Regions from separate parts of the Homo sapiens genome. Here region 2 is linked to region 1. The links come from fine-mapping of genetic effects on gene expression. Tissue or cell type: whole blood. Region 1 holds a variant in brackets; the other region holds the start of a gene. All regions are shown on one strand. Distances are from middle to middle.

What was found. PIP is the estimated chance that this variant, and not a neighbour inherited with it, causes the effect.
Region 2: it holds the start of PITPNC1, and the variant in region 1 is fine-mapped to the expression of PITPNC1 in whole blood (TOPMed, PIP above 0.99).

The regions. Positions count from the first base shown.
Region 1 is chr17:67,464,324-67,472,427 of GRCh38, forward strand. The region is part of intron 1 of PITPNC1 (phosphatidylinositol transfer protein cytoplasmic 1); the gene reads left to right. MIR548D2 (microRNA 548d-2) reads right to left here and starts at 7,262; the gene lies at 7,166-7,262. It overlaps MIR548AA2 (microRNA 548aa-2), which reads left to right and starts at 7,166; the gene lies at 7,166-7,262. The variant C/T (reference allele first, on the strand shown) is at 5,009.
Region 2 is chr17:67,372,570-67,380,673 of GRCh38, forward strand. It overlaps PITPNC1 (phosphatidylinositol transfer protein cytoplasmic 1), which reads left to right and starts at 4,712. Exons shown (of 9, transcript NM_012417.4): 1 at 4,712-5,633. The coding sequence starts at 5,586. RefSeq lists silencers at 2,276-2,355, 4,597-4,716, 4,767-5,016, 5,367-5,786, 5,797-6,096 and 1 more and an enhancer at 4,518-5,211.

The sequences.
Region 1 (8,104 bases):
TTTGAGCATCTAACATAATAGTTATTCATAAAGACATTTAGGCTGATGGCTTTCTCAGAACGTCCTGCTGTTCATGATGGACTTCATCTATATTTCAATGAATTTCTAAATGGAGGAAACAGAACATTTTTCCTTTGATTAATTCATTGGTTTTCAGTCCTCAAGGACCCATAGGCTGGCGAACTCTAAGAGGAAGTCACAAAAGGAAGAATGGTAAATTGGAATTGGAACTGTGGAACTCACCCCGTAAAAATCTTTCAACACTGTCCTGAGTTCAACATCTGAAATACAGTGGACCAGGAGAAGATTGATGGAAGCTAATTTAAAAAGCTAATTTAAAATTGCACCAAAAAAAGCACAGCGTTATGAATTTAATAAAGTTCGTAGGGTGTTTTGGACCACGATTTTACAACTCTCTCACTTTTTTTTTTTTTGAGACAGAGTCTCACTCTGTCACCCAGGCTGGAGTGCAGTGGTGCAATCTCCTCTCACCGCAATGTCTGCCTCTCGGGTCCAAGCAATTCTCCTGTCTCAGCCTCCTGAGTAGCTGGGACTACAGGCATGCACCACCAGGCCTGATTGATTTTTGAATTTTATTAGAGATGGGGTTTCACTATGTTGGCCAGGCAGGTCTCAAACTCCTGACCTCAGGTGATCCACCCGCCTTGGTCTCCCAAAGTGCTGGGATTACAGGCGTGAGCCACCACACCCGGCCACAACTCTCACTTTTAATTGACTGTGCCCCAGAATCAAGCACTTTGGCTAGCAAATGATGGCTAGTTAGATCACAGAGGTGTGTGTTGCATTCTGTGTCTGTTCACTGTGAAATCGGGATTTTAAGAGTGTATGTTGTTGAACATACACCTGTCTTTGAGTGATCGGTCCCCAGAGGCCACCTCTAAGGTGAAGATTTGGGGAGGTAATTGTGGGAAGCCCCAGGAGGAGCAGAGGAAAATGAGAAAGGGGACGAAGGGAATGTAATAGAATGTGTGTTGGGAGAGGGTTTCCTTATGAGCCAGTGCAGAGGAAAGTCTTGAAATGCACTAAGGAAATACAGTCTGTGCCGTGATGGTAGCACCGATGTGGAATCCCATAAGCAGCTGCTTGAAAAAGACTTGGTGGCAGACATAACTCTTTTTGCCTTTTAAGTGCTCCGGGAGATTTCACATGCCAATGTTGAATTGTCCCCAACTTGGGTTCAGGGTGCCCAGGAACTAGCAAAATCAGCTTTTTTGTGGTAGGATCTTCATAGGATCCAGGAGCTGTCACCCACGAATGACAGAGCCCCTGCACTGGATAGCCTTTCTCCAATCTGTATAAGGTGGAATAGGGAAATGAGGCTCCTCTCTGATGTTCGGGGCTTTAGCTGGGCTGGGTTCTGAGTCCTCTGTGCCTAGTTCCCCTTGGGAAGCACTGGAGACCTTGAACTGGAAATTCTCTTCCTGGGATCAACCAAATACTCCCAAAACTTCGTGGAAGCTTAGCTCCTTGTGCCTTTTGTCAGGTTTCCCTAGAAGTCAAGGGATTCTCATGGAGATGATGTATGGGATGGGGGCTAGAGGGCTGGGAGGATGGTAGGGCGGGGGTAAATCTAAACTTCAGGTGTCTTGGGAGTCCATGACTTGCATCACAGAGCTGGTTTCCCCCCCGTCAGGCAAGGTCGGCCTTTATTTATTTATTTATTTATTTATTTTAGAGACAGAGTCTCCCTCTGTCACCCAGGCTAGAGTGCAGTGGTGCCATCATAGTTCACTGCAGCCTTGAACTTCTGGGCTCCAGCGATCCCCCTACCTTAGCCTCCTGAGTAGCTGGGACTACAGGCACACGCCCAAATGCATAACTAATTTTTAAAGTTTCTGTAGAGATGGTGGGGTGGGGGGGTGGGGGGGGGCGCGTCTCACGATGTTGTCCAGTCTGGTCTCAAACTCCTGGCCTCAATTGATCCTACTGTCTTGACCTCCCAAAGCACTGGAATTTACAGGTGTGAGCCACTGGGCTGGCCAAAGTCAGCCTTTTGTACCCCTCTCAATGTCAGCCATTGATTGGTTGTGGGCCTCCCACAGGTGGAGAGGTTCCCATTTGTTCAAACGCAATTTACAAACAAGGGGGCAGATGGGACCCATTAGTAGCTGAAACTCACAGCAACCAGTGCCTAGTAAAGGATTCATGCAGGGCCCTCCCACACGACCCAAAACAGCAAAGAGAAAGGGCCAGGTGTTGGCCTTTTTCTAACTCATCCCTTTTAACACAGTAAGTTCAGCAGTCCTCTAAGAGTCCCACTTCAAAGTACCCCTCTTGCCTTCCGAATTCAGTGTTGTTAGCCCTTTTGCTTGAAAAACCCCCACTCTTGGACACAGAGGAAATAGGAGTCAGATGTCTGCACCTTCTGCACCTGTGGTTTGAACAGGACCCTCTGGGAGTCGCAGGAGGAGTGCTTGGCCCTGGTGCTTGGCAGGAGGTTGGGCTGGGAGATGATGATTGCCTTGATCCTCTCTTTCAACTACTTCATTCCAACTGTTGGAATACCTCAGTAGTGAGTATTAATTTTCTTCCCCCCCAAATCCAGCAAGCAATCTAGCTCCTTAAGAGAAGACTATGTTCCTGCTATTAACAGGGCTTTGACTGTTTTTGCAAAATAATAACTGGGCATTCTTGTGTTAAGGACCATTTGTTTCCTTCACCTGCTTTTCTTCCCAATTTAGCTGAAAAGGGACCTGAGCCAGTTAGGAGATTTTTTTTTTTTTTTTTTTTTTTGAGATGAATCTTGCTCTGTCACCCAGGCTGGAGTGCAGTGACATGATCTCGGCTCACTCTCAGGTTCAAGTGATTCTCCTGCCTCAGCCTCCCAAGTAGCTGGGATTACAGGTGTGCACCACCATTCTTGGCTATTTTTTGTGTGTGTGTGTTTTTAGTAGAGATGGGGTTTCACCATGTTGGCCAGGCTGGTCTCGAACTCCTGACCTCAGGTGATCCACCCGCCTCAGCCTCCCAATGTGTTGGGATTACAGGCATGAGCCACTGTGCCCCGCTGGAGACTTTTTTTTTCTGAACTAAAATATCTTTTCAGATACAAGGTTCAGGGAGGGTGGTGTGGACCAGTGAGAGAAGTTTCATTTGCACCTTTTTCATTTTTATTCTGATCCAGAGTGACTGGAGTATTAATGGATGTTGTCATAGGCTTTTGAAGTGGCCTTGCTTGGTGATTGAGTGGCTCTCGCAAAATTCTGAATTTTGGAACCAGGTATTGCTTTCTAGCTATACTAACATGTCCCTTTAGGAGTCTAATGAGATCTGCTTTGCCTCTGCCCCAAACAGATTTGCTTTACAAGTTACTGTCACTCAGGGCAAGCTCCAAGCTCTGTATCTAAAAAGCAAAGCCACCTGCCAGCCACAACCAGGTGCATGTTGCCTTTGGGCCTTGTGTCAAAATATCTTCATCATCTAAGAATAAAACCCCCAAAGAGGTCAGCCTGATCTTGTAGAAAGCCGTCCCTGGGAAAATGATTAAATGTCAGTAAACAAGAGCATTTCAGAAACTGACATGGTCCCTAATGTTTGTGTTTAGAGACTCCTAATGTGTCAGAATTGAGTTGGAGACTTACGATGTAATTGCATGTCTTGTATTTCATGCCAGCCTCTCGGCTTGGTGCTGGGGCAGAGTGGGAAGCAGACCACAGAGCAGAGAGGGCCTCTGCCCTTTTATTGTCCTGTGAGAGAGATGGATATTCACAAATAATCCTGTCCCTAATTAATTGCAGCTGAGATAACCATTATAAAAGAAACTAGAGAGTGTGACAAGGGGTGACTATCTCTTGGTCTTGGTTGTCAGGCAATGCTATGGAAGGGTTATTTAGAGTCGTAGAAGTGTCTAGTACAACCACCAGCTGATGAAGATAGTACAGGAGGAAGCAGGCATGTTTGAGACATGGTGAGTTTCAGGCTCAATTAAGGAGCTGGAGATAGCTACCAGCTGTTAGCAACACTGGGGGCGTGCAGGAGCAGCATCAGGGACAGATTTGGGAGTCCCTTGGGGAAGCCGTGGTGAAGCCACAGGAATGAACAGGTGGCTTTCTTTCCTTTTTTTTTTTTTTTTTTTGAGATGGAGTCTCACTCTGCCGCCCAGGCTGGAGTGCAGTGGCATGATCTCGGCTCACTGCAAGCTCTGCCTCCCAGGTTCTGGCCATTCTCCTGCCTCAGCCTCCCGAGTAGCTGGGACTACTGGTGCCCACCACCACGCCCAGCTAAATTTTTTTGTAGTTTTAGTAGAGACGGGGTTTCACCGTGTTAGCCAGGAGGGTCTCGATCTCCTGACCTCGTGATCCGCCCACCTCAGCCTCCCAAAGTGCTGGGATTACAGGTGTGAACCACCGTGCCTGGCCGCTTTTTTTTTTGAGACGGAGTCTTGTTCTGTTGCCCAGGCTGGAGTGCAGTGGCACTATCTCGGCTCACTGCAACCTCTGCCTCCCAGGTTCAAGCGATTCTCCTGCCTCCACCTCCCAGGTTCAAGCGATTCTCCTGCCTCAGCCTCCCAAGTAGCTGGGATCACAGGCACCCACCACCACGCCTGGCTAATTTTTGTATTTTTAGTAGAGACGAGGTTTCGCCATGTTGGCCAGGCTGGTCTCAAACTCCTGACCTCAGGTGATTCGCCTGCCTCGGCCTCCCAAAGTGTTGCAATTACAGGAGTCAGCCACTGCGCCTGGCCCAGGTGACTTTCTTGAGAGAGTATGGAGAGGGATCTGGGAGAATGTCTGGATGAAACCTTCTTTAAGGGCCTGTCACCTACATGCAATAAAGACCATACTAATTGTAATAAGACCATTGTTTACTTTTTGTTCCCCAACTGGTGCAATTTTCCCAGTCCCTGTAGTAGCCCCAGGATGGCTCAGAAACTGTCTGGGTTCCTGCTGTAGACACTGTGAGAACTTCCTTTCCAAGTGTAGCCAAGCACCCGCCCCACTGCTGCAGCCTGTGCCATCCTCCCCCTTCTCTGCACACATTGCATATC[C/T]CTGTGGTCTCCGTTTTGAGCTCAGAGTGTGGGCCTCCAACCCTCAGCACCGTATCACTCCGTAGCTTATTAGAAATGCAGAATCTGCAGCCCCCGCCCAGCTTGCTGAATCAGCCTCTGTGTTTTAACAAGATCCCCGGGATCTGTCTGCCTGTTGACAAGGGAGAAGCCTGGTCTCGGTTACCTCCTCCTCAGCGTCCTGAGCCTGGCTGGATCGCCAGCACACTCAGACCAGCGGCCCCAGGCTCTTGTGACAGCAGCCGTCAGACCCGTGGGAGTTCAGGTGCGGGTCATCAGGGCCCTGCTGGCTACTCCACCTCTCTGGGTCCCTCAGCTCAGAGATTCCACTTGAGTGTAGAGAGAATTGTTCCCCTCTGCTCTGGTGCCCTCTTTGCACTAATGTTTAGGGACCTAGAAAGGGCATCAGGAAATAAGACAGAACAAAAGCCACCAAGAGGAAGAAGGAAATTCAAGTGCCATAGCTATAGAGAGGCTCAGGAGGATAAAAACAAAGCAATAGCAGGGGCTGAGAGATTTTTTAAAAATCAGCTTTACTGTGATATATAATATATATATGTGTGTGTATATGTATATATATAATTTTTTTTTGAGACAGAATCTTGTTTTGTCATCCAGGCTGGAGTGCAGTTGTGCAATCTCAGCTCACTGTAACCTCCGCCTCCTGGGTTCAAGCGATTCTCCTGCCTCAGCCTCCCAAGTAGCCAGGATTATAGGCACACACCACCACACTTGGCTAATTTATGTATTTTTAGTAGAGATGGGGTTTCACCATGTCGGCCAGGCTGTTTTCAAGCTCCTGACCTCGAGTGATCTGCCCACTTTGGCCTCCCAAAATGCTGGGATTACAGGCATGAGCCACCACACCTGGCCATATTGTGATATAGCTAACATAGAATAGAACTCACTTTAAGTGTACAGCTTGATGAGTTTTAACATATATATACACACACTGTAGTCATGTAACCACTGCCCCATCAAGATACAGAACATTTCATCACCCCTAGAACTTCCCTTGTGACTTTTAGCTGTCAATTACTTCTCTCTACCCCCCACATTCCCCACTCCTGTTCCTAACAAGCACTGATCTGCTTTTGCACTAAAGTCTTGCCTTTCTTAAAGTTTCCTATAGATGCAGTCATACAGATGTAGTCTCTTGTGTCTCACTTCTTTTGCTCAACACAATGTTTTTGAAATTCATCCATATTCCCCGTCCGGGAGGGAGGTGGGGGGGGTCAGCCCCCCTGCCCGGCCAGCCGCCCCGTCCGGGAGGTGAGGGGCACCTCTGCCCGGCCGCCCCTACTGGGAAGTGAGGAGCCCCTCTGCCCGGCCACCACCCCGTCTGGGAGGTGTACCCAACAGCTCATTGAGAACAGGCCAGGATGACAATGGCGGCTTTGTGGAATAGAAAGGCGGGAAAGGTGGGGAAAAGATTGAGAAATCGGATGGTTGCCGTGTCTGTGTAGAAAGAAGTAGACATGGGAGACTTTTCATTTTGTTCTGCACTAAGAAAAATTCCTCTGCCTTGGGATCCTGTTGATCTGTGACCTTACCCCCAACCCTGTGCTCTCTGAAACATGTGCTGTGTCCACTCAGGGTTAAATGGATTAAGGGCGGTGCAAGATGTGCTTTGTTAAACAGATGCTTGAAGGCAGCATGCTCGTTAAGAGTCATCACCAATCCCTAATCTCAAGTAATCAGGGACACAAACACTGCGGAAGGCCGCAGGGTCCTCTGCCTAGGAAAACCAGAGACCTTTGTTCACTTGTTTATCTGCTGACCTTCCCTCCACTATTGTCCCATGACCCTGCCAAATCCCCCTCTGTGAGAAACACCCAAGAATTATCAATAAAAAAATAAATTAAAAAAAAAATGTAAAAAAAAAAAATGTAAAAAAAAAAAAAAAAGAAATTCATCCATATTATTGGATGTATCAATAGTTTGTTCCTTTTTATTGCATAGTAGCATTCCCCTGAATGGATATACCACAGTCTGTTTATTCATTTACCAGTTGATGGACATTTGGGTTACTTCCAGTTTTGGATGATTTTGAGTAAAGTTGCAATGAACATTCACATACAAGTCCTTGTGTGGACCTACGTCTTCATTTGAGAGATTTTTTTCCTTTTAAACTTTTTATTTTATTAGGTTGGTGCAAAAGAAACTGTGGTTTTTGCCATTACTTTCAATGGCAAAAACCACAATTACTTTTGCACCAACCTAAATCTTCCCTCTCTCTGGATTTGCAATTATTCTGTAAATCTAAAGTTAACTTTAGCTAAATCAGGTTGACATCATATACCCCCTAAAGTTAACTTTAGATTTACAGAAGAGTTGCAAATCCAGAGAACCCCCCGTAGTCTTCATCCACCTTCCCCCAATGTTAATATCGTACTAATTATGATACATTTATCAAAACTCAAAAATTAACATGGGCACAGTTGTATTAACTAAACTCCCGACTTTCTTCAGATTTCACCAGTTTTTTCCACTAATGTCCTTTTTCTGTTCCAGGATTTAATCAGGATATAATGTTGCACTTAATTATTATATCATAATAGTCACTTTCAATCTATGTCAATTTCTCTGTCTCTCCTTGTTTTTTTATGACTTTGACATTTATGAAGTGGGCTGGTCAAGTATTTTGTAGGATGTCCCTCAATCTGGATTTGTCTGATGTTTTCTGATCATTAGACTGCAGTTGGGGTTTGGGGAAAGAATACCCCAGAGGTGAAATGGCCTTCTCATCACATAATATTAGGGGGCACATGATATCTACCTGATTGCTCACTGGTGAAGTTAACCTTGATCACTTGGTTAAGGCGTTGTCTACCAGAGTTACCCACCGTAAGCTGCTAATTTCCCTTTCCATACTCTGTTCCAGGGGTGTCCAATCTTTTGGCTGCCCTGGGACACATTGGAAGAAGAATTGTCTTGGGCAACACATAAAATACATCATTAACACTATGACAGCTGTTGAGCTAAAAAAAAAAAAAAAAAAAAAAAAAAAAAAAAGGACCGGGTGCGGTGGCTCACACCTGTAATCCCAACACTTTGGGAGGCCGAGGCGGGTGGGTC
Region 2 (8,104 bases), 92 kb before region 1:
CTAATTTTTGTATTTTTTCTAGTAGAGACGGTGTTTCACCGTGTTGACCAGGCTGGTCTCGAACTCCTGACCTCAAGTGATCTGCCTGCCTTGGCCTCCCAAAGTGCTGGGATTACAGGTGTGAGCCACCGCACTGGCCAATTTATTGCTATCTTACTTATTTAAAAAAGAAACTATACCTTTGGCCACAGAACCTCCAGTTTTTTTTCTATGTGAAGCAATTTGTAACACATCATTGTCAATTCACTTTTATTTTATGGGCATTTACTGCAAAAATACAAGCAATTCCACATCAAAGACATTGTCTATATTTAACAGAGGCCTGATAGATGGGTGGGTCTATACATAAGAATTGCCTTGGGACTTCCTCTGTGTCATTAAGAAAGAATTTAACATTAGCTTAGTAACCAAACAAGATCAAATATACAGGTATTTAAACACAAACACACACACAAACACTTAGCCTTTGTTGGAATTAAGCAAGTAATATTTAATAAAACAAAAATTAATTGTAGGCTGGGCACAGTGGTTCACACTATACCCAGCACTTTGGGAGGCCAAGGTAGTTGGATCGCTTGAGCTCAAAAGTTTCAGACCAGCCTGGATAACATGGCAGAATGCCATCTCTACAAAAGAAATACAAAAATTGCCTGGCATGGTGGCATGTGCCTGTAGTCCCGGCTACTTGGGAGGCTGAGGCCAGAAGATCACTTGAACCTGGGAGGTGGAGGTTGCAGTGAGCTGATATCATGCTGCTCCACAGAAGCCTGGGTGACAGAGTGAGACCCTGTCTCAAAAAAAAAAAAAAGAAAAAAAATGCAAGAATAACATTTGATTTTTAAAATGTTATAAAAAAGAGGCCATGTTGGCCGGGCACCGTGGGTCACGCCTGTAATCCCAGCACTCTGGGAGGCCGAGGCGGGTGGATCACCTGAGGTCAGGAGTTCGCGACCAGCTGGCCAACACGGTGAAACCCCGTCTCTACTAAAAATACAAATAATTAGCCGGGCGTGGTGGCGGATGCCTGTAATCCCAGCTACTTGGGAGGCTGAGGCAGGAGAATCGCATAAACCTGGGAGGCGTAGGTTGCAGTGAGCTGAGATCAAGCCATTGCACTCTAGCCTGGGTGACAGAGCAAGACTCCGGCTCAAAAAAAAAAAAACCAAAAAACAAAAAACAAAAAGAGGCCATGTCAAAAGCACATAGGAGCCAACCAGAAAGAGCTCCCAACAGCCAATGCTGGAACTGTCTGAGCAGCAAAATAAATAACATAATGTTGATTATAACTTGAAGTATAGAATAAATAAGCACAAATCCACACAGATATATATATATATATATATATATATATATATATATATATATTTGAATAAATATATATAGAGAAGGGACAAATCTTTTTTTTTTTTTTTTGAGATGGAGTCTTGTTCTGTCACCCAGGCTGGAGTGCAGTGGCATGATTTCGGCTCACTGCAACCTCCGCCTCCCAGATTCAAGCAATTCTCCTGCCTCAGCCTCCCAAGTAGCTGGGACTACAGGCGCGAGCCACCACGCCTAGCTACTTTTTGTATTTTTAGTAGAGACGGGGTTTCACCATATTGGCGAGGGTGGTCTCGAACTTCTGATCTCAAGTGATTCGCCCACTTCGGCCTCCCAAAGTGTTGGGATTACAGGCGTGAGCCACCATGCCCGGCCTTCATTTTTTAATCGTCAGAAATTCCTGTTAGTACACTTTTCTTTCAGAGGCTGTTTACAGAGGTGGGTCAAGACCTTATTAGTTTTTTCACACAGACATGGAGGATTAAAGAGATCATCAGAATGCCTCGAAGAGAATAGGTTGACAGTCTTCTTAGATTATCTTGGTGTGCCATACCCCCTCCTGCGTTTTGAGAACCCCTGCTTTCAGAGACTGTCACTTATCTGAGAACAGATGCTGTCACAGACATGCACAGCCTCATATTCTTTTCCTCTTTGTCTTATCATTCCTCTCTGGTAACTTTACTGTTTTGTTCCTCTTTTTGCCTTTTGTGTCCCACCCCCATTTAAAAAAATGTGATGATCAGCCACGGCAGATTGTACATTGTTAATGGAACATCATGACTGTCCATAATGATGATAGCAACAGCTTCAAGGCTCTTCGTAAGTAGATATTGCGACTTCATTGGTTGAGAAGAAACAAAGATACAATTCTTGCCAGACACTTGCTGAGGACAGGACTTAAAACCACAGTGCTTGGCCAGTAGATGGCGCGCCCCGCCCTCAGTGTGCATGACTTATGAATGAATATGCCCTCCCTATGCCCTGCACCAGCCCCTCCCGCCTCTGCTAGCCCCTCCAGCTCACTGCTATCAGAACCACTGTCTGAAGCGCAGATTGCCAAGGCCTGGCTTTAAAATGGTGTCATGGGGATTGAATTGGGGAGAGGGATTCTCTGTGAAGGCAACGGGTTGAACAGCAGAAGGGTTGAGCTAGAAAGGTGGCCGGGGAGGAGGGGCTTTTGCAGCCAACTGACTCGTCTCATTTGGCTGGAGTTGGGCTGGGAAGGGTAATGGACTAATGTGGGAAAGGTAGATCCAGAGCCTTGAACCTCCTACCAAAGCATTTTGACTTGCTCAGTAGGCCATAGAGAAGCCCTAAAAGGTTTTTATATATTTTTAAATTTTAGAGACAGGGTTTCAGCATGTTTCCCAGGCTGGTCTTGAACTCCTGGGCTCATGCGATCGGCCCACCTCCCCTCCCAAAGTGCTGGGATTACAGGGGTGAGCCACCGAGCCCAGCCAGGAATCACTAAAAGGTTTGAAGGTGGCAGGATGAGAGCTGTACTTGCACAAGATTAATATGACCAGGTTTGCGGATGCAATGAATGAAAAGAAAATGAGAATCCAATGGAGAAGTCACCTTACAACAGGAGGGGTGGGCTGGGCGCGGTGGCTCACACCTGTAATCCCAGCACTTTGGGAGGCCGAGGCCATCACCTGAGCTCAGGAGTTTGAGACCAGCCTGACCAACATGGTGAAACTCCATCTCTACTAAAAATACAAAATTAGCCAGGCGTGGTGGCCGGTGCCTGTAATCCCAGCTACTCCAGAGGCTGAGGCAGAAGACTTGCTTGAACCCGGGAGGTGGAGGTTGCAGTGAGCCGAGATCATGCCATTGCACTCCAGCCTGGGCAACAAGAGCGAAACTCCATCACAAACCAATAACAGCAACAAGACGGATGATGGAGGAAGCATATATGTGACAATTTACAGTTCGGGAAATTCAGAGAAGTAGCTCCTCAACAGTGTCACCCGTCAGTAGAATACTTCCTTCCAGAATCAGTGTCAGGAAATGTCCAGGAAGCCAGGAACTGAGCCTACACATCCCGATGTCCCAAGTGCATGCGCATGTGTGGCTAGCCAATCCCTTGCCTTCCTGCCTCTGGGAAGATTATTAGGTCTTCCATTTGTTTTCAAGTAAGAAGCAAAAAAAAAAAAAAAAAAAGGAAAAACAGCTTGAGTTTCTTTCCATATCACAGCCTTCCAATGTGTTATTATTCAACACTGCAGTGTCAGATTTAGATTTTCCACCTCGAGGAATTTGGTTTAGCTTTAATTAGTTGCTGTGAATATTTCTGAGCCAACTCTGGAAAGCATTTATCTGGAAAATAGTTTCCACTAAAATATAAGCTGGATATAGGGTATCATTTTCCTAGGAGGGTTTGTATCAGTTAACAGTTATAAATTCTCTCCAGCCCTCTGGATGACTTTTGCCACAAGCCCATCATCGTCATATTGGTTAATTACTTATTAATTAAACACAATTCAAAATACTGTATTGAGGCATCTGCATCGCCATCTAAGCTCTAGCTTCAGGACTTCAGAGCGTGAAGATTTTTCGGAGAAAAGATAACGCTTACAGGTTATTCTCATACAGGCAACTGATGCATTTTTCATCCGGCAACTTTTCATAAAAACAAGCTGAAAAATACCAGACAAATGAAAAACAGACTTCAGCAGTTCCATGCTGCTTCCTGAGTAACTGAAGAATGTGCTTCTTGTGGTTAAAATGAGAGATCTGTTTAATATGGATCAAATAGCAACACTCCAGGCATTTTCATTGACATTTCACTGTGACTTTTTGAACTTAGGAGTGCGGATACGAAAACCTACTCTTTCTTTCTGCTGCGCGGAGCCTGCACAATCTGCAGAAAGATTGCAGAGCCGGGCCAGGCGAGGTAACAGGCTACGTGGGGTTCATGTTCTCTCTGGTTGTTCCCTCCCCGTTTGTACTTCATTTCCATTCACACGGCTGCACTTCCCAGTTTTCCAGGATCTCTCCTCTGAAACCAGGCAAGGGTTTGTTCCCAAATCCCACCCATTGCCTCTCCAGCCCCAGACTTGCTTACTGGACCACACATAGGTGGTGGGCATTGGTGACTTGTCCCTAGGGTCAGGGGACCAGAAACTTCCCAGAGGGGCTGGATGGAGCACGGCAGCACTCAGGGCACAATGGAGAGCGGATTCAAAGGGCAAAGGAGCCGAGGAAAGCCCCTCTGCCCGAGCCTCCCCAGCGCCGGCCGGGCTCCGCTCCGGAGCAGCCCCGCCGTCTGGCAGAGACATGCTGTTTTGTTTAAATCCTCCACATTCTTTGCCATTTCCCCATTGGCCGGATGGGGCTACCCTCCCCGCCGCGGCCGCTGCTGATGTCAGCCTCGCTCGCGCTCGCTCCTCCCGCACCCACCTCCCGGCCCCAGGCACACTGCATCGGCGCGGACGCTCCGGCCCCGGCGAGGTGGCTGCAAACTCGCGGGCACGCACGGCGCCCGGGGAGCCGAGGGACTCGGGGGAGGGGACGCGCGCGGAAGGCGCCAGCTTCCTCCCGCCCGCCCCTGGCAGCCGCGAGCCGAGGTTGGAGGCGCCCGGGGCCCCAGCCGGGCAGAGCCGAGCGGCGGCGGCGGCGGCGGCTTCCCTTTTCTCCCCGAGCCGAGCCCCGGAGCGGCGCGGGGACCGGCCCTAAAAAGAGCAGGAAATCTTGTTTACCGCCCGCGGAGAGAAGCCGATCGAGCCTTTGTCTGGAAAGTCAGCATCTCCGGCTCCGGCTGCAATGTGTTCCTGGTGACATTAGCATCGGGCAGACCCGCCGGAGGAGGGGGGTCGCCAGGTTCCCGTCTGCTTTCGGAGGCGGATCGAGCGGGTGACTTTTGTGCATTCGTTTTAATTTTTGGAAATCTCTCTTTTTTCCTCCCTCGCTCGCTGCCGGGCATGTCCTGATCTGGCGGCCGCTCCTACCACCCTGGGCAGCCGAGCAGAGTCGTCCCCAGCGGGTCTCCCTCCCTGCCTCCCTGACTTTGCAACACCGCGTTCCGGGAGGACCGGCCTCGGCGAGGGAGGAGGCGGGGGAGCTGCGAACACCCAGACCCAAACCCTGACATGCTCTGGGGCGGAGAGGAGGAAGCCAGGAGCTGAGCGCGCCGCGGGGGCTGCTTCGCCCTCCGGCTCCGAGCGCCGGGCTCCGGGCGCCCTGCCCTGCGCCTGGGCAGCAGCCTTGCTGGTCTTGGGGGCGCCCCCCGCTTCCCGCCCCGGGGGTCCGCGGCCGGCAGGACCATGCTGCTGAAAGAGTACCGGATCTGCATGCCGCTCACCGTAGACGAGGTAAGCGCCGCGCCCGGCCCGGCCTCGCCCGCTCCGGGACCCCCGCCGCTACCGCCGCCTCCTGGCCGGCGAGCCCCGGGCGAGCGGCAGGAAACCCAGGTGGACGTTACCCCGCAAACCCGAAGCCTGGAGGAGAGGAGGGAGGGGATTTGCGGCTTCCACTTGTCACCCCAGCGGGGGAGGGCGGCGCTGGGTGGGGCGGCGGACTCCGGGTGGGCTTTTCGGGGGCGCCCAGAATCCAGACTGTTGGGGATCACTATGAGCCAAAGGGAGTGGGTGCGCCCCCTCCCTCCAAATAAGAAAATGAATAAACCAAACCCAAGAGCCCCCGGCGCGCGCTGTAGCTGGGGTTTGGGGGGCATCCCGTCCTGGCCGTGGGCCCAGCCTCCCCTCCCCGCCCTCTGCGGTCAGGTAGGGGTGCGAGGAGGAGCCCTGCGCCCTCGGGATCTGCACGCCCCGAGCCCCGCGGGAGGAACCTCTGAGCCCTTAGGGGAGGTCCCTGCGGGGCCCGACTTCTCGCCGTCGCCGCGGGCTTGGGCGCAGCTCCCGGCACGTCCGCCCTTCGAGGCTCGGGACCCGGCTGTGTCCTTTCGCAAACCGCCTGGCTCGGAAACTTTCTGCGTCTCTTGTTTCTTCCGCCGCGGGGAGCGGCGCGCGAGCCGGGAGCGGCGGGGGCTGCGACGCGGCCACAGGAGGGCGCTCCAGCACGTGGTGCCGGGGCCGCGGCTGCCGGCTGGGGGCGCCGGGCGCGGGGCGGGGGCTCGTCCTCCAAGCGCGGCTCTGCTGTCCTTCTCCCGATCCTGCGAAGCCGCGAGCTCCAGTATTCAGGAAGTGGTGACTCAGATAGGATTATTCCGGCCCCGGCTTCCCTTTCTTCCCCTTCTTCCTCCCCACCTTTGTGGTGATTCCACGACTGCTGAGCGTCTCTGTCCAGGGACAGCGAGGGAGCCCAAAGCCAAGCAAGGCAACGTGAAACTCACTAGTGTGGTTTGGTGTGGCAACACACATGAAATCAGCCACCCAGACCGTCTTTATATTTAAATCTGGTGCCTCGAAACTATCAGATATGTTTTTGAGCCACTACTTGGTGAGAGGGGCGATGTGCTTTGGGAGAGAAAAAGATGCATAACTGAGAACATGGCTGAGCTCACAGGGGCTGTCCGTATTTGCCATCTGGACCAAGGGTTAAGGTAAGACCCAAGTACAATCCAAGACAAGATCAAAGTAGCTGCAAGTTTACAAAACGCATCACGGGGACACAGGCTGCCAAGGAGGGAGAGATCAGCTTCCACCAGAATGAACAACCGAGTTTTGGAGTTCGTTGGCATTTGAGGAGGTAGCATTTAAGCAGGGTCTGGAAGGGTGGATGCCAGGTGGGTAGACAGAGATTCGAGTTGCATATGACCTTGTAAGTGGAGAAGCAGGACATAGCTTTGTGGAGAAAGAGAAGGGCAAATGAATGGGACTGGTTAATAGGAGTCTTTCCAGAAAAGGTGGAGATTGTCCCACCTTGTGGGCAGTTGAGCTAGAGTAATTCAGCTGGGAGGCATGGATCCCTCTACTCCATATCCTAATGACCTTGTTTTTTGATATGAGTTTGGATTCTAGGAGCAATGTTGGGACTGCATGAAATACACAGAAAATTGCAGGTGATAATCAAGAAAAGAACCAGTTCTAGAATCTTCTCTACTAACTACAAAATCTCTTTATCCTAGTTGGTTCCCTTTTCAGGCTTTCTGAAACACTCAGGCAGATGCTTTTCCCACTTTTGTTTTTGTACCGAAATACCCACAGGTATACCGTGGGGTAATTACATTTGAATGATATAGGTGGAGGCCCTTCCTTCCTTCCTTCCTTTTTTTTGTCTTTTCTTTTCTTTTTTTTTTTTTTGAGATGGAGCCTTGTTATGTTGCCCAGGGTGGGGCGCAATGGCGAGATCTCGGCTCACTGCAACCTCCGCCACCTGGATTCAAGCAATTCTCCTGCCTCAGCCTCCTGAGTAGCTGAGATTACAGGTGCCTGCCACCACGTCTGGCTAATTTTTGTATTTTTAGTAGAGACGGGGTTTCACCATGTTGGCCAGGCTGGTCTTGAATGCCTGACCTCAGGCAATCCGCCTGCCTCAGCCTCCCAAAGTGCTGGGATTACAGGCATGAGCCACTGCGCCCAGCCAGCCCTTCCTTTCTTAATTGGCCAACAAAATCAGACTCATCAGACTCCACCTGTAATATAATTATAAATTCTTTAATGTATAATTCATTTTGGCCAAAGTATGATTCAGTTTCTGTAAGGTTCATATTCTGAAGTCATTTTCGGCTTTGTCAGAGAAGCAGGAGGGCAATTTAGATTAATAGATGTTTCCAATTAGTAGGATTCAGATTAGCTAAATCTGATGATGGATGAAGAAATGAGGCCTAGTTTGCCAGATGTTAAACCCCTAGAGTCAGAACTGATAGTAAATTCCACAGTCT